Regions from separate parts of the Homo sapiens genome. Here all the other regions are linked to region 1. Evidence: fine-mapped expression QTL. A gene starts in region 1. Each other region holds a variant in brackets. All regions are shown on one strand. Distances are between the middles of the regions. Region 1 holds the start of FAM131B-AS2 (FAM131B antisense RNA 2). Region 2 holds the start of EPHA1 (EPH receptor A1). Region 3 overlaps EPHA1-AS1 (EPHA1 antisense RNA 1).

The links. PIP is the estimated chance that this variant, and not a neighbour inherited with it, causes the effect.
Region 2: its variant is fine-mapped to the expression of FAM131B-AS2 in whole blood (INTERVAL, PIP above 0.99).
Region 3: its variant is fine-mapped to the expression of FAM131B-AS2 in whole blood (INTERVAL, PIP 0.96).

The regions. Positions count from the first base shown.
Region 1 is chr7:143,376,490-143,384,658 of GRCh38, forward strand. FAM131B-AS2 (FAM131B antisense RNA 2) reads right to left here and starts at 4,536. Exons shown (of 2, transcript NR_161353.1): 1 at 3,777-4,536; 2 at 2,666-3,620. It overlaps ZYX (zyxin), which reads left to right and starts at 4,856. Exons shown (of 10, transcript NM_003461.5): 1 at 4,856-4,920; 2 at 5,068-5,290; 3 at 5,759-5,958; 4 at 6,104-6,196; 5 at 6,312-6,833. The coding sequence starts at 5,083. It overlaps MIR6892 (microRNA 6892), which reads left to right and starts at 6,197; the gene lies at 6,197-6,311. It also overlaps a transcript of FAM131B not described here. RefSeq lists enhancers at 3,416-3,495, 3,652-4,552, 3,676-3,765 and silencers at 4,266-5,295, 5,326-5,375.
Region 2 is chr7:143,404,671-143,412,670 of GRCh38, forward strand. It overlaps EPHA1 (EPH receptor A1), which reads right to left and starts at 4,186. Exons shown (of 18, transcript NM_005232.5): 1 at 4,054-4,186; 2 at 2,941-3,008. The coding sequence starts at 4,135. It overlaps EPHA1-AS1 (EPHA1 antisense RNA 1), which reads left to right and starts at 3,143. Exons shown (of 5, transcript NR_033897.1): 1 at 3,143-3,216. RefSeq lists enhancers at 159-673, 4,258-4,870. The variant C/A (reference allele first, on the strand shown) is at 4,067.
Region 3 is chr7:143,495,044-143,503,391 of GRCh38, forward strand. The region is part of intron 2 of EPHA1-AS1 (EPHA1 antisense RNA 1); the gene reads left to right. LOC105375547 (a long non-coding RNA gene) reads left to right here. Exons shown (of 2, transcript XR_928075.3): 1 at 1-353; 2 at 923-1,729. Among named protein-coding and RNA genes, the nearest start is that of TAS2R41, 21 kb to the left of the region's middle. The variant T/C (reference allele first, on the strand shown) is at 4,037.

The sequences.
Region 1 (8,169 bases):
AGAAAGAAGGAAACGTGGGCATTTGTGGTTGTCAGTCCCACCCCTCTCTTGGGGGAGTGGCCCTTGGACAGGGCAGGAGGCTGCTCAACCTTGGCCTTGACTGCAAAGGTCTCTGGGTCTTGCTGTGTGCTTCACCCAGACCTCATCCTGATGCGCGCCCAACCCATCCATGGTTCATCATCCACCGTGTCTGCAGTTCCCTCAGGGAGAGATTCTTTTGTACTGGCATGCAGGCCAGTGGGATGAGAGGGGCAGTAAATCTGGGAGCAAGTGGGAAGCTGCAGGCCGAGTGCACACAGTACTCAGCGCAAGGGAGGTGCTCCAATATCAGGAAAAAGATACAACGGCTCTTTCATTTCTCTCCTTTCTTTTTTCAGATTATAAAGTAATACATGTTCACAGGGACAAAATACAAAAGTATAAAAGCCTTCTGTCCTCCTCAATCTACTCCCTAACATTAACTACTGTTAACAATTCTTTTTTATTTGTTTATTTTTTTGACACACAGTCGCATTCCTCGCCCAGGATGGAGTGCAGTGGCACGATCTCGATCTCGGCTCACTGCAACCTCCACCTCCTGGTTCAAGCAATTCTCGTAGCTGGGATTACAGGCGCACACCACCAACCCGGCTTATGTTTGTATTTTTTCTAGAGACGGGGTTTCTCCATGTTGGCCATGCCTAGTCTTGAACTCCCGGCCTCAAGTGATCCTCCCACCTCAGCCTCCCAAGGTGGTGAGATTACAGGCATGAGCCACTGCGCCTGGCTGTGCTGTTAACAATTCTTGACATCTTCTGGAAATGTGCTATTTTACAAAAGCACGTATACATATAGCTTGCATATACAAAATGTGTGTATGTGTTCACATGCAGATAGATATATAAACAGACAGAATTTGATGGTGTCATGAGACAGAAAGAGAAAATGGTAGCCCACAGGTATAAAGTAGGGGTGTTGGGGTGAAGGCAGACTTGAAAGGGGCTGTTGATGGACCAGGTAGGAGGGCCTGAGGAGAAGTGATGGAATACAAGGATGGAAGCAAGGATGGGGCAGGAGAGTCTTAATATTTGTGTTGCAAAAAAATTTTGCAGTTTAGGAGGTGAGAAATCCAACATCCAGTTAGCCTCAGTTTCCTTAACTAAAAAATGGGATAATGATGTATATTCCTCACAGGTTTATAGTGATGATTAGAAGGGGCGAATATATATATAAACAAACATACATATATGTTTGTTTGTTTTTTGGACAGAGTCTCGATCTGTCACCCAGGCTGGTATGCAGTGGTGCGATTTTGGCTCACTGCAACCTCCGCCTCCCAGGTTCAAGTGATTCTCCCATCTTAGCCTCCTGAGTAGCTGAGACTACAGGCACGTGCCACCACGCCCAGCTAATTTTTGTATTTTTAGTAGAGATGGGGTTTCACTATATCTTGGCCAGGTTGGTCTTGAACTCCTGACCTCAGGTGATCCACCCACCTTGGCCTCCCAAAGTGCTGGGATTACAGGCGTGAGCCACTGTGCCTGGCCAGGGCTAATATATTTAAAGTGCTTAGCATTGCACCTCAAACAATATTCTAAGCATTCTCTCAGCGTGTGCTGCTATTATAGTTGTTGATGTTATTAGGGTGCTGCTATTGTTGCTGTTTTCAGAATGCTTCACGTGGTCCCTGGCCCGTGAGTGAACCTCTATCCATCTGCAGTTGGCATATGGAAAGAACCTCCTGGTCACATTTCTCTTTCCATTTTAGAAATCATTCTTTTGTTGTGACACTGTCTTTTCATTTTCCTTCCCTGACTGCTCTTAACTTCCTACTTTATGCTGTGCACTCTTGAAGAAAACTTTCTGGTACCTGATGGTTATAAATCCTTGGAGGCGCGTGAAGATGTTTTAGGTAGTAAAGGGCAGTGGCCATTTTCTCACTTTGTCTCCCTGGCCTGGTCTTAAGCTGTTGGGCATTCTTTAGTCAGGAACATCTTCTTATTTGCTGTACTTCACACATACTGCCTAAGGATATCAATTAGAATTGCTTACTTAAGAAAAATGCCCAGCAATCGTTAAGGCCACTCTTGTTCATTTCCTGCATTTTTTTTTTTTTTTTTTTTGAGATGGAGTCTCACTCTGTTGCCCAGGCTGGAGTGCAGTGGCGTGATCTTGGCTCACTGCAACTTCCGCCTCCTGGGTTCAAGCGATTCTTCTCCTGCTTCAGCCTCCCCAGTAGCTGGGACTACACGCTCCCGCCACCTCACCAGGCTAATTTTTGTATTTTTAGTAGAGACTGGGTTTCACCACGTTGGTCAGGCTTGTCTCAAACTTCCGACCTCAAGTGATCTGCCTGCCTTGGCCTCCAAAGTGCTGGGATTACAGGCGTGAGCCACTGCGCCCAGCCCATTGTCTTCATTTTAAGAGCACTGACTCTGCTGCTCCTCTTGAGACATCTTGGGCAGTGATTCTGTTCTTCTGGGATACTCTGGGTGTTTCTACTTGTATTTAGAATGGCTGGCTTAAAAGTCTTTGTTTGAATATTCCGCATTCTGAATGCTCTTAGTTGTCAGTAAAACTATGCCTGCCTACGCACTCTTCTATTTCTGATTTAAAAATAGGTTCAGCTGCCTAACAATTACACATACTCTATTTTGCACGCGCACATTACTTAAGGAGACATTTAGAGGGTAGATAGCTTTTATTCCTATGAGTTATCTTGAAATCATCTTCTTAACTATCTTTTTTTCCCCAAAGGGGCCATATTTTGAAGGATTTGTGATGAGACTTTTGGTCTGTGAAGCCCAAGACACAATCTCCAACATGCACAGGAAATCCAGTATCAAATTTCTAACATGTCTTCAGAGACAGGCCCAGGGCTGGCTTGAGCGTGTCAGAGAGGTGTGCACTGCGTACTACCCATCATACATGGCCACACATGCCTGTGGCTGTGAGAAATACTGGTGGTGACAAAGACAATGAGATGCCAGAGAAAAAGATCAGTGGGGTTTGCAAAAGTGATTAAGATGTCGTCCTAGGTATAATTAAAGACTTAATAAGGTTGAAGGAAAGAGAGGACATTGCACATACCGAGGCCCCTGAGAGATCTGCCTGGCAACCCAGAAAGGGACATATGGGGGAAAACGCCTTAGTGTAACCAGGTCAGAATTTTCATTCTGGGCAGAACTGGAATTTGAATAATAATACTGAGTCATATAGCGCATACAGCTATGACATTTCATTTATTTCTCTATATAATGCAATAAAGTAGATGGATTAACCGTGACGTTTACAGATGGAGCAGGGGAGAATGAAGAGGCGTCAGTTTGGGCATCAGGCTGGATCTTCACACTCTGACCTCACTCTGCTCTATCCTGCCCAGTGTTGCTTCACCTGATATCAGGGGTGCAAGGCAACCAGATCTGACACCAGTTTCAGTTTAGATCCTGCCTTTACCTGGGTGTGACCCGGGTCCATCTCTTCAGCTCGGCCTCTGCTTTCTCTTCATAAACTTTTGGGGTTAGTCCTCGGATGATCTCTAAAACATGGCCCAGGTGCTCCTTGCCAGTAGAGTGTAGCCGGATTTGGAGGGACTGGACACTCAGTGTGAACAAGACGAAGGCCTCAGGAGGCAGTAAAAGCTGACAAGAGGAGAGAAAATGAAGCGCCTACGGGTGCATACTGGACTAGCGGGCGAAAGGCCATGACTCCTTAGTTTGGAGAAAGAACTGGGGCCGAGATTGGGGAAGTTTCCCAGTGCAATTAAAAAAAAAAAAAAAAAGAACTAGAAGAATTACCCAGGTCTGGCTTCTTTCGTGTAGCCTGGGGCTGAGTCGCAGGCTGAGAAATCCAGTCTGGCCAGTAGGGGGCTCCACCAAGCGCAGTCTCAGAATGCCCAAGAGCTCCACCGTCGCCCGGGGTCTCCACCAAGCGCAGTCTCAGAATGCCCAAGAGCCCCACCGTCGCCCGGGGTCTCCAAGAGGAGTGGGTCGTGGTGGGCGTTGAAGGGCCGTAAAAGACGAGCAGCCCGCGTCCGCGTCCGTCCTCCCGGGTCTCCAGTCCGCAGGCGGCCGCCGCCTCGGCCCCGCCCTCCCACCTCCATTCCCGGCCCCGCGGACCCGAACGGTCCCTCTCGCAACCGATCTGCTGGCTGGGGCGCTGGGGATGCGAATTCCTAGAAGCCTTAAGAGGCTGCCCAGCGTTGGAAGTTCGTATCCCCAAGAATGCTGGAGGTTCCGGCTCACACACCCCCTCCGGGCACAGAGTCAGCTGGGGGGTGCTGGGAGGGAGAACGCCCCGCTCCTCACCCCCCATCCCCGTGCACCCTGGAGCCCAGCTCCATACGTTCGGCCACCCCAGGCGGACTCGGGGTGGCCGGGTAGCGGGTGGTGGCAGGAGGGGACCGGGTAACGGCAGGCCCGAGAGGAGGTCGCTGGGCCGGGCCGGAGGCGCACAGGGGCTGCGTGGCTACCTCGGCGGCACCCGCCCCACCTCCGCCGGCTAAGCCCGGAGGGGGACGGTGAGTCAGATCTCGGGCACCCGCGGGTCGGGCGGGGAGGGGGAGGCAGGTCAGGAAATGACATCAGAGGCCTGTGCTCAGGGAGTGGGGGTCTGAGCCGGGCTGGGGCGGCGGGGGCGGCAGTGAGTGGGGTGGGGGCGAGCGGACCTCGGCGGAGCCTCCGGCCTGAGGCAGGATCAGGGCCCCTTCCTGGGGGAGTTTCCTGCCTGGTCCGCCCTTCCCCGCTCTCCCCGCCCCCTCTCCGGGCCGCTCCTTGTATGGTCTGGGCGCCGCTCTCTCCCCGCCCCCTCTCTTCTCCCTCCCTCCTCCTTCCGTGTGTCCCTCCCCGCCCGGCTGGAGGCTGCTCCGGACCGGGACGCAGAGTCTGCGGACCCGGCGCCGAGGCGGCCACCCGAGACGCGGCGCGCACGCTCCGGCCTGCGGTGAGGCGCGGGGAGCGGCAGGGCGGCCCCACGGGGAGGGGGCGCGGGGCGCCGGGAGGGGGCGAGTGGGGGTCACCAAGGGGAGCTGGGACCGCCTGGGGCTCCTGAGCCCGGCTCCGCGCTGCGTAACCCGGCGACCCACCCCAGCAGCCCGGCCCGGCCATGGCGGCCCCCCGCCCGTCTCCCGCGATCTCCGTTTCGGTCTCGGCTCCGGCTTTTTACGCCCCGCAGAAGAAGTTCGGCCCTGTGGTGGCCCCAAAGCCCAAAGTGAATCCCTTCCGGCCCGGGGACAGCGAGCCTCCCCCGGCACCCGGGGCCCAGCGCGCACAGATGGGCCGGGTGGGCGAGATTCCCCCGCCGCCCCCGGAAGGTATGCGGCGGGGCTTGGGGAATGTACCCCGGCAGGAGCCGGGGTGGGGGGCAGTCGTTTCGGGAATTTGGGGATGTCTGGAAAGGTTGTTGCCGAGGGGGCTGGGCGCAGCCACCCTGTCCCGAGCAGATGTTCTTACCTCATCGTGGAGCTCGTGGCTGGGAGCCAGGGCTCCTGGGACCGTTCCAAGTCCCCCGCCTGGGAGTGGGAGTCGGGAATGTGGGGCACGAATCTTCCCCTCCGGGTCCGTTTTCCGAAGTGTAACGGGAGCTGCACCACTCCTCGGCAGTGCGCCCGGCCTTTCCTGACCTGGTACTCCCAGGGCGCCCTGCGCCCCTCCTTTGCTTCCCCACACGCTCTGGGACCCCTGAGAGAGTTCTTGGGTTAGGGGTTAGAGCGGTTAACTGAGGGGAGCTTGGGTGAGGGGTAGAGGGACCCCGGCCGACGTCTTTCTCCTTCCTACCCCAGACTTTCCCCTGCCTCCACCTCCCCTTGCTGGGGATGGCGACGATGCAGAGGGTGCTCTGGGAGGTGCCTTCCCGCCGCCCCCTCCCCCGATCGAGGAATCATTTCCCCCTGCGCCTCTGGAGGAGGAGATCTTCCCTTCCCCGCCGCCTCCTCCGGAGGAGGAGGGAGGGCCTGAGGCCCCCATACCGCCCCCACCACAGGTACGGAGGCCTGGGAGGGGCGGCTGCACTGGACACCCCCAAGGAGAGGAGAAGAGGGCCCTTTCTTCTTACCTCCCCTGCACCTCTGCCTTGGGGGTGGGGGGATAGAGGCATGGAATAGGTGCTCTGACCTCTGACCCTCTAGCCCAGGGAGAAGGTGAGCAGTATTGATTTGGAGATCGACTCTCTGTCCTCACTGCTGGATGACATGACCAAGAATGATCCTTTCAAAGCCCGGGTAAGGGACCGGAGAGTAGGAAAAGCAGGGCTCAGGGCCAGAGAGACTGGGCATAGAACTAAGGAGGATGGTGTCCTCCTGACTGCATCTCTCTTCCCTCTCCCACCCCTTGCAGGTGTCATCTGGATATGTGCCCCCACCAGTGGCCACTCCATTCAGTTCCAAGTCCAGTACCAAGCCTGCAGCCGGGGGCACAGCACCCCTGCCTCCTTGGAAGTCCCCTTCCAGCTCCCAGCCTCTGCCCCAGGTTCCGGCTCCGGCTCAGAGCCAGACACAGTTCCATGTTCAGCCCCAGCCCCAGCCCAAGCCTCAGGTCCAACTCCATGTCCAGTCCCAGACCCAGCCTGTGTCTTTGGCTAACACCCAGCCCCGAGGGCCCCCAGCCTCATCTCCGGCTCCAGCCCCTAAGTTTTCTCCAGTGACTCCTAAGTTTACTCCTGTGGCTTCCAAGTTCAGTCCTGGAGCCCCAGGTGGATCTGGGTCACAACCAAATCAAAAATTGGGGCACCCCGAAGCTCTTTCTGCTGGCACAGGCTCCCCTCAACCTCCCAGCTTCACCTATGCCCAGCAGAGGGAGAAGCCCCGAGTGCAGGAGAAGCAGCACCCCGTGCCCCCACCGGCTCAGAACCAAAACCAGGTGAGGGATGGTGATAGGACAAGGCTTGGTACCAGGGCACTGGGGCGGGGCTGGGTCAGGAGCCAGAGCATAAGCATAAGGTGATTGGAGAGTCAGGGTGGACACGGGGGTTGCGGGGTGGCGGGATAGGAATTTTCATCCTCTGGGGTTAGCCTGGTGGAACAATGGTAGGAAAATGCTCCTCTGGAGGAGAGGCCTGGCTGGGTGTGGGGCTGGGTGGGGCCTGGCTGGGACGGCGCAGAGAGCATGGGCTCTGAATTAGGAGGATCTGGTGGACCTTTCCTTGTGCCTTTACCCCAGAAAGTTAAAGGGAGGGATGAGATCACCAGTTCCACCTTGGTTTTTCCCATTCTTGGGTCTTGAGTTAATCTCCCTGCTCCTCTGAGCACTCTTTCTGCCTGAGGGCTTGGAGGTAAGAGACAGCCCCAGTAAACACTGGTTGAGCCAGCATCCACCACGTGCCAGGCACTGTGCTCTGTGCCCAGGAGGGTAGGACATGGGAGGGAAGAGATCTCTGCAAGAAGCTCAGCCTTCAGGTGTCAGATGGACCTGGAATGGAATTCTTGGCTCAGCTTCTCCCAAGTCCTTAGACTGGGCAAGTTAGGTGAACCCTGAGCCTCAGTTTCTCAATCTTTAACATTCTCTACTCCATACAGTGGTTGTGAAGATTGGGTGAGCTAATACCTAGAGAGTGTTGGGTTCTGTATCTAGTACAGGAATGCTCAAAATAGAAAAGCTGTAATTACAAAATGGTTCTTGCCTTCTAGTTCAGGAAATAAGATCGTCCAATTTCTGGTGACGAAGATGACCCTGATGGTCATCTAGTCCAAGCATCCAGAGTCCACTGATAGTGTTGATGTCTACCTACACTCGGACACAGCATAGGAAGAAATGCCAAGGGCCAGTGAGCTTTGCAGAATCCTGTGAGTCACAGGCACTCAGACCAGGGAGTCAACTCGGGGAGTCAAATTAGGAAAGGCTTCGAAGGATGGGCAGGACGTAAGAATCCAGAGAGGAGAGGGATGTTTGGAGAACAGAAAGTGGAAGGTTCCTGTAGGAAAATGATAGAGCTATACTTGGAGAGGCAAGCGGGGCTGGAGGGTGTAGGAGGTGAAGTGGCTCACCCAAGGAGCTCTTGAGCACTGGAGAGGCATTCATGATTTTTGAGTAGGTGTGGGGTGGGTCAGGAGGGCTGGTGAAAGCAGTGTTTTTGGAAGCTTTCTGGAAAGTTTCACCAGCAGAGATGTGTATTCGAGGGAGGTCAGTGATGGGTGTGAATTCACTCTTGGGCAATAGTAATGTTAGCTGCAATGAAAATTAAACCGTGCATGTGAGA
Region 2 (8,000 bases), 28 kb after region 1:
CTGTCCCATTAACCTGAGTGATCTTGTGCAAGACATATGTTTTAGTTATAGCTGATGGTTCTGATATCTGCTTGTCAGACAAGTCTCCCATTTCATTCTTCAAAAACTCTTCTCAACCATTCTTATTTCCTCTGTCAGATGAATTTTCAAAAGCTCTCAAATTCTATAAAGTATTCTATTGATATTTTTGTTGCAACCCCATAATTTAATGCAGAATAGACTGAGGCCCTTAGAAAGTTCACTTTCCTGAGGTTTCTACTCCATTATAATGCAGGGGCCCTCATCCCTACCCTCAGCTCTGGGAAAAGGCAAAAAAAAAAATCATTAATCAAAAATTTGGGGTGAGGTGGGGCAGAAATAGAAGCTGCTATGAGGCACATATTTCTGCATTATGTTAGGGAGTTCAAAGATTGGGCAAGGGGTGTCTAAAAGGCAAGGAAGCTGGAATGAAAAAGGCACCAGGAGGCTTCTCCTAAGGAAGGCTGTGCTGGGGAAGCCCAAGTGGAAGGCACTGGCGGGGGTCAGGTGGGCAGGGTGGTGAGTGGTTAACGTGCAGCTCATTAGCCAGATTGCCGTGGCTGAAGCTGGAGCCAGGAGAAGCAGATGTTCCCAGCTGTGCCTTGCCTCTCCCAGTTCCAGCAGTGACAGATGGGCGAGAGCCAGCTGTCCAGGATCAGCAGTAAGGATCCTTTTGCTTATCACTCAGGCGCTGCTGGCTGCCACATGGGTGCATTCTGGACCTGAATGCCTGCGTGTGCATGTGTGCGTGTGTGTGTGTGTGTGTGTGTGTGTTTTGAAAAGATGGGGAGAAGGAGGGGGACAAGGTAGATAGTGGGAGTGTATGACTGCTGGCTGTCTCCTTGCCCTCCTAGCATGCAGGACTGTTTTGCCTGTGCTGAGAAAGTGGCCTTGCTGCCATTCCAGTCAAATTAGGGAAGAGTTATTTGGGTGGAGGTGTCAAGGGCCCAAGGAAGGCCCATGGGAGCCAGAAGTCTGACCTGCAGCTATCACTGTGGGTGATTAGCTGATTTATGAGATAAGTCAACTATTAGGGCTGGATCTTCCAAACGGCCCCTCCTGGAGGATCCACTATGGTTTAGTCTATTAGCTCTAATTACAGGCTACTCTGTAGGAGAACAGAGAACGGAGCCAGGACTGTAGGACCCAGAGGGAAAGAAAGCAAGTAACCCTGACCCCAGAAACAGGGGCTGGATTGAAGTCTCAAGTACTGGGGTAAGGAAGGAAACCCTGAGAGAAGGGGTTCCAGAGCCAGAGTTGTAGATGCTCCAGTAACTTAGGCAGCCCCCTAAGTGGTTCTGTGACCAGCTGTGCTGCTGGCAGAAAGGGTGCTGTGAATTGTAAAATATATATTTGGTCTTTGTCCACATTTCCTGGCAAACAACCCCTAAAGCCCTCAAAATCCCTGAAGTGACAAATGTCTTTTTATATGCTAGTGAGCTGACTGCCGGGGATGGGAACTAGACTGGGGTGGGGGAGGCCTGGGTGGCAGAAGGCAACCTTGTGATTGGAGTTGGGACTTTCGGCCCCACCCCCAACTTCCAGGGAAGGTAGAGAGGTTGAAGGTTGAGCTGATAACCAGTGGGCAATGATCTAATTAATCACGCCTATGTAATGAAGTCTCCATAAAAGCCCAGAAGGATGGGGTTGGGAGGGCTTCTGGATGGCCATACATGATTAGGTCCCTGCAGGGTGGCTCGCCTCCTTCACATATACCTTGCCCCATGCAGCTATTCCATCTGGTGTTCATGGTACCATTTGTAATAACCGTTATAGTAAGCCAGTAAATCCAAGTCAATGTTTCCCTGAGTTCTGTGAGCCATCCTAGCAAACTAATTGAACCCGAGGAGGAGGGTCAGGTAAACCTGATTACAGCCGATGGAACAGAAGTATAGGTGACAACATGTTACTTGTGATTGTTGTCTAGAGGAGGGCAGTCTTGTGGGGCTGAGCCCTCAACCTGAGGCTATCTCCAGGTAGATAGTGTAAGAACTGAATAAGATTAGAGGACACTCAGCTACTGTCCACTGAAGAATCTGCCAGAGAGAACTGACTGCAGGCGGGAGGAATCCCTACACGCATTTTGGTGACCACAGGTCACCGAAGTGATTTGTGTTGAGAGTGCAGTAGGAAAAAACTGAGTTTGGTTTTTTGTACATCATAAGAGCTGCTCTCTGCATTTGAGTCTGAATATGCTCTCTCAGACCCACCTCACAACCTGTTCACTGAGTCTTAGGAACATCCAAGGAAGGAAGGGAACTGGAACAAGCTCTGACACTTTCAAACAGCTGGAATGCATGGTGTGCACGCAGTCAGCCTGAGGAGGTGTGGAGGATGAGCTAAGGGCTCAGAAACCTTTAGGGGAGCAGCTTTTAACTTCGGAGGAGTCAAAGACCCTTTGAAGAATTTGATGAAAGCTTTGGCTGGTCTCTCCAGAAAAAAAAATGCCCGCTTACATATACAGAATTTAGAGTACACTTTCATGGGGTTTCCCCACCCCCTGAAACCTATCAATGCAACTTCATTGGGATGAATGGATCTCAGATTGAGGATGCTTTTCTGCCTTTTCTATCCCTCCCCAAGCAAAGCACTGGTCTCAGCCTTCAACCATCCCCAGCATGGTGCATTCTCTCCCCGGGTATGTGAGCTCCTCTCCCCCTCACAAGTATCAGCTTGTATTCACAATATTCCCAAGTATTCACTGGAGGAGCCAGGCCATTCAAGCGTTCATCTTGAGGTGAAGTCTGACCCCCCCACCCCTTGTCCCATTGAGGAGGCTCTGACTCAGCCTCCTCTCCCCCTCCCTGAGGAGACACTTCCAGTTTTTCCTGCTCTTTTCTCTGTTCCTCCACCCACCTCTCCACCCCATTTCCCACTGGCCTTCAGGAGTTTTCCAAGATCCTTCCCTCTTCCGACACTTACCCCATCTTTTGGGGGATCCAGCAGCCAGCCCAGCTCTCCCTGTGCCTTGCTTGTGTCCATCAGAGTAACTGAAAGTGGGGAGAAAAGAAGTCTGTCACCTCTGGGGGAGGAGGTGCCCCTGCAGCCCACATTAATCATTCTGGGGCCTCAGCCCCAGGCTGCAACATCCTGTTCCTAAAAGCTGTGACTTCCTGAGGCTTAGGGGAGAAAAAGGGCTCAGGACTGAGGAGTGAAGAGCTCCAGGGATTTCACTCTTCTTTGTGTGTGTGAAGGAAGGCAGGTAGAGTGGGACAAGGGTTGGGGCGCTGGGTCTTTGACCAAAGTCAATGCAAGAAGAGCAGCCCCACGAGACGCTCAGTTACCCAGGCTGCTGCGTCCTGGGACACCCATCAGCTGCAGGATTGGAACGCGTGGAGGGCAGGAGGAGCTCACCTCTGCTAGCCAGGAGTGGGCAGGGTGGACCGGGGACCTCAGAAGGGGTTTCCTGGGTAGGGAGGCTCACCTCCACTGTCCGAAGCCTGCTTTGGCCTGACCTGGCCAGTGATCAGAGCCGTGAAGTGGGGATAAGAGGCACAGCTACCTGCCTGGGAAGTGGGGGGGAGTAAGGCCGGAGAGGGTGTTCCAACTTTCACATGGAATATTCGACTCGGACAACTGGGAACCCCTGTGGCGTCAGTCCTAACCCTTCTCCCGGAGGCAGCTCCCTCTGTCCCTGGCCTAGGTTGGCAGGAGGCGACTTCCCACCTTCAACTTCCAAGGGCTCAGATCTCTGGGGTGGGCACCTGAAGCTGGGACTGTCTGGGAATGCAGGCAGGGGTGCGGGTGCAGGTGCTACTTCCTGGCAAGGGTCCGGAATTCCCTCCCCACTCCCAGGAGCAGATTGCTGGCCTGCGGGAGTGGGGGTGACTGACCCGGGAGAGCAGCCGCTTGGGGTTAAAGACCAAAGATGGGCCTGGCCAGTCGATAGCCTGGCGGTCGGGCACAGCGAGAGAGCTGGCGAGGGTCTCGGGGAACATGGCCCCTAGGAATGCCGGCTTCTGCAGGGGGGTGCTGGCCGGGCCCCGGGAAGGGGCGGGGCGCGGGGGTTGGGGGCGCGGGGGCGGGGGTCGGTACCTTCCTTGGCGCG[C/A]GCCCCCGGGGGCAGCGGGGCGCAGAGCAGCAGCACCAGCCCTAGCCCCAGGGGCCAGCGCCGCTCCATAGCTCCGGGCCGGGACCTGGGACAGTGGCCCGGATGGCAGCGCCAGGTTGCAAGGGACTAGGAGAGCCGGGCGGGCCGGGCGGGGGCGGGGGGCGGGGCCAGCGCCGGGGGCGGAGTCCCGGCCTCACCTGGTTCACCTCCTTAAAGGGACAGTAGGGCAGGAAAGAAACTTGCTAGACTGGTAATCAAATTCAAGAACCGGAGGCGTCTTGACCCGAATGAGACTGCGGGCGCCGCCTAGTAGGTGGGATTAAGAATTGACGAACCTTTTCCCAATTCTAATCCTAAACTCAACCCAATCTTGATCCAGCTTTTAACCTAATTCTACCTCTGACTTGAATTACACTCCTATATTCCTCTTTCTGTCTTTGTGCAGGCCCCAGAGCTGGGTAATAGGGCCGGGGAAGGCAAGGGGTAAGAGTCATATCTTCACCCTCTAGCAGGGGAGGCTTAGATGACCACAATGCAAGGTGGGGTACAACCTGCAGTGAAGCATCTGGAGATTAGAAGAGGAAGCAAGCCCAGTCATCGGGGCACATTAGTTGAGTCTTCAGGGAGAGCTGGTGTGACCTGGGTTTTCAGTGGCAGAGATTGGGAAAGGCACCAGCAAGGGCCTGAAGGCAGGGAGCCTCAAGGTGCGCCCAGGGAGTGGTGAATGGACCAGTTTGACTGCTGGGGCGCAGGATTTGTCTTGGGAATCAGGGCAGAAAGGCAGGTGTGGGCCAGGGCTGGGTAAACAAGAAAAGGAGTTTGAACCTTGACATGCACTTACACAGCAGACATGAATATCTGGTTAAGGTTCCAGCCACAGGTGGCAGGGAAGGATATTTTAACCCATCTTAGTGGTGTCAAACCACGTGCCCTCTCACTTTCTTGCGGACTTCCTTATATTCTTTTTCTTTTTTGAGATGGAGTCTCGCTCTGTGGCCCAGGCTGCAGTGCAGTGGTGCAATCTTGGCTCACTGCAACCTCCGCCTCCCTGGTTCAAACGATCCTCCTGCCTCAGCCTCCCGAGTAACTGGGATCACAAGCGTCAAGCGTGCACCACCACACCCAGCTAATTTTTCTATTTTTAGTAGAGACGGGGTTTCACCATGTTGGCCAGCCTGGTGTCGAACTCCTGACCTTAGGTGATCCCTCCTGATCTCAAGTGATCTCCCTGCCTCTGCCTCCCAAAGTCCTGGAATTACAGGCCTGAGTTACTGCGCTCTGCCGAGACTTTCTTATATTCTATTTAGTAAATGTTTGTTCAGTTTCTGCTATGCATGCAGGAAGCTCTAGAAGCACCTAAGAACAGAAGGACAATGTCTTGCCCTATATAAGCTATTAATTTGGGGATGCTGGGGGTTGAGACATAAATAATTGCACAAATGATTGAAATGGCGGGCAGGAGTGGACCCCAGGCAAGGTACACACAGGGATCACAGTAGCTCAAAGGGGAGTGATGCATTTACTAAAGAGGCTGGGGGTCCACTCCTGGCCCCTCCTTCTTTCGCTCCATCCCATCTGGGTAAATTGTTCATAATTTTTCTATCATTTACATTGTTGCACATTTCGGTACTGTGAATGAAGGGAGGTGGTGGATTATAGGTGCTTTTTCTCATTTTCAAAATGTAATGCTTCTCAGGTTTTTTGTTTTTTTTTTTTGCTTTCTTATGCAGATACGTATATGACAAACACGGCCCATCAGTTCTTGGCTCAGACTATCCTTATTTGCATAAATAAATGTAATTCATGTACATTGGTTAGGAAATTCATGTTGAACATACAGAAACAAAATGGGAAGTAGAACCCTCTGCCCTCCAACACTCTAATTTCTGTTCCCCAAGTTAACCACCATCAACTGTTTCTTGTAAGTCCTCCCAGGATTGCTTCCTCGCTGTGTACACACCATCGTGTATTTTTCCCTCCCTCTCTCCCTCTACTCCCACACTTACATGCTTTTAAAATGTGTATACAGAGGGGCCATCTGACACACATTGCTCTGCACCAGAGGCCTCTTTTCTAATGTTAAAGACTCCAGGAAGGAGGAGGAGGCTCACGCTGGCTGGCGGGGGTCAGAGCTTTGTGATTTCAGCAGGGAGGAATGGGCGAAGGGTACAAAGCCAACAGAAGGGGGGAAATGGAGCAAGCGTTGGACAATTGCTGCTAGGACATAAGCCAGACTGTGGTGAGGTAATGCATGTGCTTGCTGCTGCAGTTTGTTAAAGTTACAAGACCCTTGGGACTCCAGAGGGTGGGGGGTGGGGGGTGGGTGTGTGGAGTGGGGGAGACTGCTCCATGCAGTGAGACATGGAGTCTAGAACCCTGGAAAAAAAAGTCTTGCTTTTTGTTTTAGGATAGGCTCTTTATCCTGGTCTGAAAGTCTCTGCATATGGGGAATGAATGTCCACTTTCTGTCTCCTTTCAGGATTATCTTGATTTGACATTTTCTGGTTAGTTTGTCATGAGAGGAGGCACATCTTCAAGTTTAGTCTCTGTTCTTAACTAGCAGTACAACTTTTGTCAAATTATTTATGTTCTCTGGACCATGGTTTCAGTTTCCCTAGACCTAGATGATTTCTGAGGCTATATTCAGGGATGGTCTCAGAAAATAAAAAGCTAGCAGGATTTTGAGTCAGGAGACTTTGGCCAGTTCCCTTAGCCATAATGTGCCTCAGTTTCCTTAGCTATAAAATGAGATTAATCACGTCCACCCCACAGAGTCAGTGTAATGATCAAAAGAGGAGAAAGTGCTTTATGAACTGTAAGGTACTGAGCAAATGTTAATTGGCTAGGAGAATGGTGGAGGCTAGGAATTGCTGGAGTTCTCCTGCAGGCCTCCCAGCTTGCTCCCAGAGCAGAACAACCTCAATTACTAAGACATCATTATTTTTCCATTCCAAAATCAACTTTACTGAGGGACAACTTGCATAAAATAAGTTGCAGCCATTCCAAGTGTACGGTTCAATGGGCTCTCACAAATGTATATGCACCACCACCTCAGTCAAGATGCAGAGCAGTTTCAGCATCTAAAAACATTCACTGGTGCTCCTGTGAATCAATCCCACCTCCAGCCTTAGGGTTTCTGTCCATTTGGGTGAGTTTTATCCTTTCCAGAATTTTATGCCGTCTCTGGACTCTGGGTCTTTCTCTTTAGTATGATGCTCCCAAGATCCATCCTTCTAAGACTCATCCTTCTAAGATCCATCTTTCTTGTTGCCTCCATCAACAGTTTCTCTTTTTCGATGCTGGGCAGTATTCCCTATAGAGATGCCCTAAGACATCATTTAAAATTACAAAATCAAACCCCAAAACTCCTCCTTTTTTTTGGTCCCCTAGGAACCACAGGCCTCGTAGCAGACAGGGCCTCCCAGAGGGACACCTCTTTCCCCTTCTGGCGTCTGGCCCTGTTCTCATTCTGCAGTCAGAAAGGAAAGCCTGCAGAGTCCCTGCAGCCCAGGCTGTGGCTTGTTCTTACAAACTTGACGTTAACACTACCCTGTTCATATTATTCCCCTTCTACTCCCTACCCAGCTCCTTTCTGACTGAGGATAAGGTGAAATTACACCCAGCCTAGGTCATGGTCTTGTATATCCATAGGCTCTGGTCAAAATGCAACCAACATCACCAGCAGGGTAACCCAGGATGTTGCTAGCAACTACTATGAGAGAATTAGTACAAACTAATTTTTTGGACTAGTATTGTCAGAGGCATGTGAACCAGAGCAACTCCATCTTGAGTAGGGGCTGGGTGAAATGAGGCTGAGATCTACTGGGCTGCATTCCCAGACAGTTAAGGCATTCTAAGTCACAGGATGAGATAAGAGGTAGGCACAAGTTACAGGTCATAAAAACCTTGCTGATAAAACAGTTTGCGGTAAAGA
Region 3 (8,348 bases), 120 kb after region 1:
GGGTGATAGGATTATAGATATTTTTGTTTTCTTATTTTTAGCTTATCAATATTGATATGGCTTGAATTTGTGTCCCTGCCCAAATCTCATGTCAAACTGTAATCCCCAGTGTTGGAGGAGGGGCCTGGTGGGAGGTGATTGGATCATGGGAGCAGATTTCCCTCTTGTTGTTTTCCAATAGTGAGTTAAGTTCTCACAAGATCTGGTTATTTGAAAGTGTGTGGCACCTCCCCGCTGTCTCTCTTCCTCCTGCTCTGGCCGTGTAAGATGTGCCTGCTTCCACTTCGCCTTCCACCATGATTATAAGTTTCCTGAGGCCTCCTCTCCATGCTTCCTGAACAGTCTGTGGAACTGTGAGTCAATTAAACCTCTTTTCTTAATAAATTACCCAGTCTCAGGTAGTTCTTTATAACAATGAGAGAACAAACTGTTACAAATATTTTTAAATGTTTATAATAAACACATATTTTTTCTCTCATAGGAATCCAAATGAAATTTAAAAAATTCACATATCTGATATAGACGTATCGCATTGAGATAGTGATATTAGGAAATGAATTTGCTGTCTTAATGCCTGGCACTACTGAATAGCCTTTGGGCAACATAAGTGAGCATTCAAGGAAAGATACAATTAAAACTGTATCTCAGCAAAGTAGATATAACTATAGGTTTTCGACTATTTATACCATAAAAAATAAATCTGGAAATATTCTATGGTGGCAAACACCCTGGACTAGAGGCAGGACAATGGGTTTTACTCCGGCTTTGGTACAAATTGCTCTATGACTTTTGACAAGTCACCTAATCTCCCTGGGTCTTAGTTTCTTTGTTTGTGAAACCAAATGGTGGAATTGGACCTCAAGGTCCTGCAGAAGTCTGTGTTTTTCAGTGTGTGCATTACAACATTTTCCTTTCATTCTAGGTACTAGATTCTGAGGTCTGAGACTAAAGTCATTCCATCATGAGTTCCAAACTGGACTTGAGAGGGGAAGAATCATTTCCTTTGAGATTGACCAATACCAGGAGTTTCACTAAAGAAGGCAATGAAAGACCCACAGCCTTGGACATAATTGATTTCCTGTGATATCTGTGTGGGCCCAGGCATGCTGCTCACCTGGGTCTTTCCCCTCTTTCACTCCTTTGGAACTGCCCCACCACTAACCACTTTCCTACTCTCTCCTTCCCCACCCCAGTATCTCCTTGCCTCAAGAGTTTCCTGTTACTAGCAATAATTTAGTTCACTCCCAGGGAACTACTATTTCTGGTTCTCAGTTACTAACCTTTCCATTCAGTTCTTTCCATTCCATTTTTACCAGAATTAACGTTTCCTCATCTTTCCCAGTGAATGTAAAAGGTACCTTCTGGGAAGCATTTTACCGGAACTGATGACTGCTATGCTTGACAGCAGCTTCAACAGCCTCGGATACAACTCATCATGAATTAGCTCTGGCATGACTGAGTTAGAATACTGTTCTGTTTCCTATCTCTACATGTAGGAAAAATTTAAAGTGGCATTTCTATGCTTTGGTCTTTTCTCATAAATGACTTAGGGGAAAACACTTAATGAGGATGAGTAACTAAAATTCAATGAATACTAAAAGCTTTATAAGAATCATCTAATTGAAACTTTACATAATTTCCTTATTATGTATTAACATTGAACGGGCATTATGCATTCCATTTCTAGAAAAGAAGTCTTTCCTTAATAAATTACAAGTGCAAACATGAAGTCCAGGACAATTTTTACTTCAAGATCAACTTGTCTATATGCTAGGATAATGAATTTGAATACTCTTTACTGATGTTCCCTGAAGACGTAGCTATTTTGTTTTCTATAATGATATTATTTTCTTGAGTCTCCATTCTGTTGGGTACTGTAGAAAGAAGACAAAAAGCAAACAATATAATATACCAATTAAAGGTATCTTAGTTTTTTTACAGTATAAATGGTCTCTGTTAACTTAAAATGATCTTTCCAGGTAAATATTTAATTAATTTGAAGTTCTACCTTATATCAGAGTGGTATATTTCTTTTTCTTCCTTATCAACAGGGCTTCTGGGCATAAGACAAAACCTGATAGTACTGACTTGTGGGGCTTTGAATGGATATGTAGAATCACTCTTGTTTTGTGCTGGTCCTGGTGCTGGCTTCTGCAGCTGGACAACCACTCGAATCTTTGCTTATTCACGTGGCAGGTTTCTGTTGAGACATAGTTTATGTGGATCCAACCTGTGTCATCCACTGTTGGAGGCTGTGGCCAAGGAACCCATGGACTGTTTGTTGTCTTGGCTTTGTCAAGGCTTGGTGGCCATCTTCTTGTTGAAATGGTCCCACTTCTGGTTTTCCAATGCTGTGATTCCCCCAAACACACACACATCACCTCCCAGACATGACTGATTTCTTCTGGAGCCCTGAGTTGGGAAGTCCATTCTGTAGCTCTCAGTGATATGGCCACATTTTCTCCACCAAGCTGATCCCCTCTGGCATGTTCTTTGGTTGAGCTCCCAGCTGCTTCCTGTATCTGCACCTCCCATTCGAGACAAACAGGAACTTGAGGCATGAATTCCATATTCTAGGGAGCCAGGAGCATGCTCAGATTGGCTTGCCTGCCATCCTCTTTCACTGCTGCTTTTCTATCGTCCCTCAACATCTTTGGAGTTTCTAGGTCACCCTGAACAACAGTCTCTTGGTAGGGCTCTAAATGGGGATCAGGAAAGTATTTCCACCTTTGGCCTCTTCTTATCCTATCTCTTCATCCTCAGGGCCTCAGTCCCTTGGAGGGCTGTTTAGAACACATATATTTGAATGTCTGCTTCTTCTACCTTTCTCTTCCTTTATTTATTCCCAAGTCTGTGTCAGAAAGAGAAGGTTTTGCCCTCTCATGAAATGGAAGATTTCCCTTATGTCATATCCTGAGTTCCCTAGTTTATCAAAATCTCAGTGTTCAAATCCAAAGGTTGTGGGTTTTGATGTAGGTGCCTCAGGGCTTCAGAAATTTGGAATTAATAAAGAAAATATAGATTGATCTGTTTTTCTCTAAGTGTTATCCTTGTGCCTGCAATTCTCCATATGGTGTCCATCTTGGACAGAGAATTGGGCATCTCTTCTCTTCATTATTCAGCTCGTCCTGCTGAAACGCAGCCAGGACAGGGCACACCGCAGCACCAAGCAGCTACAAGGTAATCAGATTCTGAGCACTAAACCCAAGGCACATGGAATATTTTCCTTTTCTTTTTCTTATTTTATTTTATTTTATTTTATTTTATTTTATTTTATTTTTTTGAGATAGAGTCTTACTCTGTCAACCAGGCTGGAATGCAGTGATACAATATTGGCTCACTGCAGCCTCCACCTCCTGGGTTCAAGTGATTTTCCTGCCTCAGCCTCCAAGTAGTTGGGACTACAGGCACCCGCCACCATGCCTGGATAATTTGTGTATATTTGGTAGAGATGGGGTTTCATCATGTTGGCCATGCTGGTCTTGAACTCCTGACCTCAGGTGATCGGCCCACCTTGGCCTCCCAAAGTGCTAGGATTACAGGCTTGAGCCACCGCACCTGGCCGATGTGGAATATTTTTCTAAAGCAGCCTATTTGATTCTTTTTGAAAGGCCCTTCTCAGTTTCCCCAGCCTGATACGGGCTCGGCTGTAAAGATGGGACAGAATCTGTGTCATGTCTCAGGAGTGAGGAAAAGAAAATGTTATTCTGTCACATTCAGAACAGTTCTACAAGGTGGACACAGACTGGGCCAGAGGTAGACAACTGGTAAAGAGCCAGCCAAGATGAAAATTGGGATATACCCGATGTCAAATTTCAAATATTGGGCATTTTTCACTAGACCATGCTGCCTCTCACATTCCTTTCTAAAAGAAACTGGTTGCAAACGGCCAGGTGCAGTGGCTCACGCCTGTAATCCCAGCACTTTGGGAGGCCAAGGTAGGCAGATCACGAGGTCAGGAGATGGAGACCATCCTGGCTAACATGGTGAAACCCCGTCTCTATTAAAAATACAAAAAATTAGCTGGGTATGGAGG[T/C]ACGAACCTGCTGTAGTCCCAGCTACTTGGGAGGCTGAGGCAGGAGAATCACTTGAAGCCGGGAGGTGGAGGTTGCAGCGACCTGAGATCATGCCACTGCACTCCAGCCTGGGAGACAGAGTGAGACTCCATCTCAAAAAAAAAAAAAAAAAAAGTGGTTGCAATGGAAGAAGGCAAAGGTCTCTTTATGCTCTGGCATTGTGGAATTCCACACAGAGGTTTGCAAAAGCAGAAGCAGTGTCTTTCTGCTGTCAAGATCTTTTCCATGACTGAATTAAGCAAAATGACGTGTCTTAATACTCAAAAGGAGCAGAGAAAAGAGTTCTGGCTGGGTGTTTCCTGCTCTTTAGATAGAGTTTGCTTCCTGGCCTTGAGTTAAGGAAGCTGACTCGTTTTTATTTCTAGAGCCTTCTGGCTCCCCTCCAGGCCTAAGCATTTGCCTCAATTTTTCCCTAACAGTTTGGACCTGGTTATAGGCTGAATAATGGCCCTGCACATGTGTCCACCTTCTGTCCTAATCTCCCAAGTCTATGACTGTTATCTTCTATGGCAAAAGGGATTTTTGCAGGGGTGATTAAGTATTTTGAGATGAGGAGATTATCCTGGGTTAGCCAGGTTTGCCCAATATAATCACAAGGGTCTTTAGAGAGAGAGGCAGGAACACCAGCATCAGATCTTTCTGCCTCCGTCTTCTCTTTAGGGCCAAGCCCATATCAAGCTGGGGAAACCGTGAAGGGCCTTTTACAAAGAATCGAACAGGCTGCTTTAGAAAACTACTCCACATGCCTTCTGTTTAATGCTCACAATCTGATTATGTTGTAGCTGCTTGGTGCTGCGGTGTGCCCTATCCTGGCTGCATTTCTTCATTCCCTCCCCTGCCCACATACATCCACAGCCCCAGTCGGCTGTATCCATGAAGAGCTGAATGGAACAGGATGACTGGCAGCCCACGCCAAAGGCCAAGAGATGTGAAGGTAGAAGCAAGAAGTTAGAATGACCTGAGGAAGAGGTCACAAGCCCAGGAATGCCAGCAGCCACTAAAAGCTGAAAAAAGGCAAGGAAATGAGTTTTCCTCTGAAGCTGCCAGAAGGAACAAGCCCAGCCAATGCCTTGACCCTAGCCCAGTAAAATTGATTTTGAACTTCCGACTTCCAGAACTGTGAGAGAATACATTTACGTTGTTTTAAGCCACAAATATGTGGCAATTTGTTACAGCAGCAATGGGAAACTAACACAGATTCTAATCTCTTTTCTTACTCCCATCCCAGGTTGCCCTGGGGTTAATTCATGATTAAAGATCCTCCAGCTTTGTTCTCTATACTTTCTCTTGTCTTCTTGAGTCTGATCTCCTTCTTGCTCTCCAAGTGCTTCCCCCACTGCACATCAACAAGAACATTTCTGCTTCTTACCTGTCTCTGTCCCCTGCTCTAACCCATGAGGAGTCAGAAGCAGTCTAGTGGGGGCCAGGCAGGGGAGGGAGGTGAGGAAGCTAGGAAGGTTAGAGAAGAGAGAAGAAGCCAACATTCCCCACTTTAAGCTTTTGGGGTTGGGAGTCAGAAGAAGCTTTATCTTAAAACAAGGTTTAGAGGTTTGATTTTACCTTGGGCTGGATATTTTTAAGACTGCAGTGAGAATGTTTTGGGGACTTAAGGCGAATGAAAACGTTTTGATTTTTTGGGAGGAACTAGAACATTCATGCTACTTGTTATGGATTTAGTCCAAGGCACAGAGAAGGACTAGCCCCATAGTGCAGGTTTGAGTGTATGGAGATGAGAAAGAACACAGCACTTTTCTGATTACAGTTTGTGAATTCAGCTTGTTCAGTAAACCAGTTCCCCTTAGTTTCTACAATAGATTTGAGATCTTGTGGTCTGGGACCTGGGAATTCCATCGTGGCTGTGATATTTTCGCAAGATTTTCAAATCTTTTTCAGTATCACATGCACTCTGTGTAGCGGAGGTTGTTTCATCTACTTAGCCCACCAAGACCCCTCTGGAGGCTGCATAGCCTGGTGGCTAAAGGTGTAGGTTCTAGACCCTGAATGTGCAAGTCTGAATCTTTGTTCCTACCTTGTGCCTTTGCAGCAATGGGCAAGTTAAAGTCTCTACTGCCTCAGTTTCTTCTGATGTAAAATGGGGAGGATGGTAATACCTGACTCACGGGCTTTTGTGAAGATCAAATGAGACGATCCATGCAGAGCACTTAGCACAGTGTCCAGTCCATGATAAGCCCTCAGTGAATAGTAGATATTTTTATGTTGAAATGCTTTGAAGAGTTTAGAAGAAAGGTGCCAGTCAAGCCAATGCTAGAAACAGAGATTAATTTTTATTTCCTCACACATTTACTTCTATCCTGCTGTGCCTTGTAAACTGAACATTTTCATATTTTTCTCCTTCGCAAAATACAAACTGTTCCAACAGTTCTCTGCCTCAAACCTGAAGTGTTTTATGCCATCCTTGGTAGGTTGTGAGAGATATTTTGGAAGCACCTTTTTAGAAGCTCTGTTAATTGAAACTATTCCTCAAGCTTTGCAATAAATGCAGAAAGTTTCAGTGCTCCCTCACATCCTGGAAGCTGACTGTAGCCTGTAGAGGGCTACTGGGTTAAGCCCTCTACAAAGGTGACGATAGAGTCCAGTTCAGGAAGCCATCTTCTGGCCAGGTAGGGTGGACATGGGCACACTGGAGCCAGAGGGAGGTCAAAAGAGGGTAGTGAGTGTAGGGGCCAGAAATGATTATCCAAGAGTAAATTGAGGTCCAGAAGCTGTTCAGAGGCACAGGAGCCCTTTTTCATCTTGTCTTTGTTCCTGTTGATAGTGAATATACAGCAGCTGTCTTGAAGATGGAGAAGGAAAGTGAGGGGTGCTGACTGAGAAACTGCCTTACAGACCTCCTTCCTCTCTCCATCTACCTCTAAGTCAAATGAAAAGGAATCCAGTGAAATTCTCCCAGCTCCCTTAATAAAGATGACTCTCCAGCTCTCATCTTGCTAGGAGAATGTTCCACTTCTTTTTCCACAAATAAAAATAATTTATGTTTGTACAGTGCTTAATTTCAAGAAATTTCATAGATATTATTTCATTTGAGGAAGGAGAGAATTGGGGCTGGGTTAGGCCACACAAGCCTGGCTCAATGTCAAGTATTTCCTAAATGGAGACAGAGGTCTGACTCTAAGCTTTATATATGACACTGGTTAGATTTTAGAGTTTTTTAGTTTTTTGAGTTGTGGTGGGAGAAGCACTATAATCATTATTAATATAGCCACCATGAAACATAGATTTAAAATTCTGCTCTGCTAGTTTGAGGTAGCATTAAGATCAGTAGAATGATTTTGAAGGTTTCTGCTTATCAAAGAAATGTTTAAAGAAGAAGAAGTGTGGGTGTGGTGGCTCACACCTGTAATCCCAGCACTTTGGGAGGCTGAGGCGGGTGTATCACCTGAGGTCAGGAGTTTGAGACCAGCCTGGCCAACGTGGTGAAATCCCCTCTCTACTAAAAGTACAAACATTAGCCAGGTGTGGTGGCACACACCTGTAGTCCTAGCTGATTGGGAGCCTGAGGCAGGAGGATCACTTGAACCCAAGAGGCAGAGTTTGCAGTGAGCTGAGATCACACCACTGTACCCGAGCCTGGTTGACAGAGTGAGACTCCATCTAAAAAAAAAAAGAAAAGAAAATATCTATTTCAAACATCTTTAACAAACAATTTTAAGGTATCTAGGCTGTCTAAACATTTATTCTAAAGTTCTCTCTACGAAAAACAATCTAGACTTTATAAAAGATTAGTAAATCTAACCTATTATAAAAATAGTTAAGTTTATAATACCAAGTTAAATTTTTTAGGATCTATATGTGCTTTTTATGATTGGGACACTTGCATTAAGAATAGTACTGCTTATACAGATTTTATTAAAGAATTAGACTTATTTCACTACTTTATTTCAAAGATTGATAATACTTTTATTTTGGTGTATTTTTGGCCATATAGAGGATTAATTTAATGGTAAGTTTTAGTCAGAAAACCAACCTTCTATCATATTGTCCTTATAGGAAAATACAATGAACGATATCATGTTGTACTCTTTGATAACATAGTTTTCTAGGAATATTCTGGGTAAAATGGTTTAAATAATTTGGGAGTAAATTTCTTTTGCTGAAGCTTTTAATTTCAACTACTCATGCAGCAAAATATTTTGCCAAAGTCCAATGACTTTCAAGTTTAATAGTGGCATTAGGTAAAGCTGAAAATAGGCCTATATTTTGTGAACATAATCACATTATGACTGAACCTCCTTAGACTTCCTTCCCTAGCCT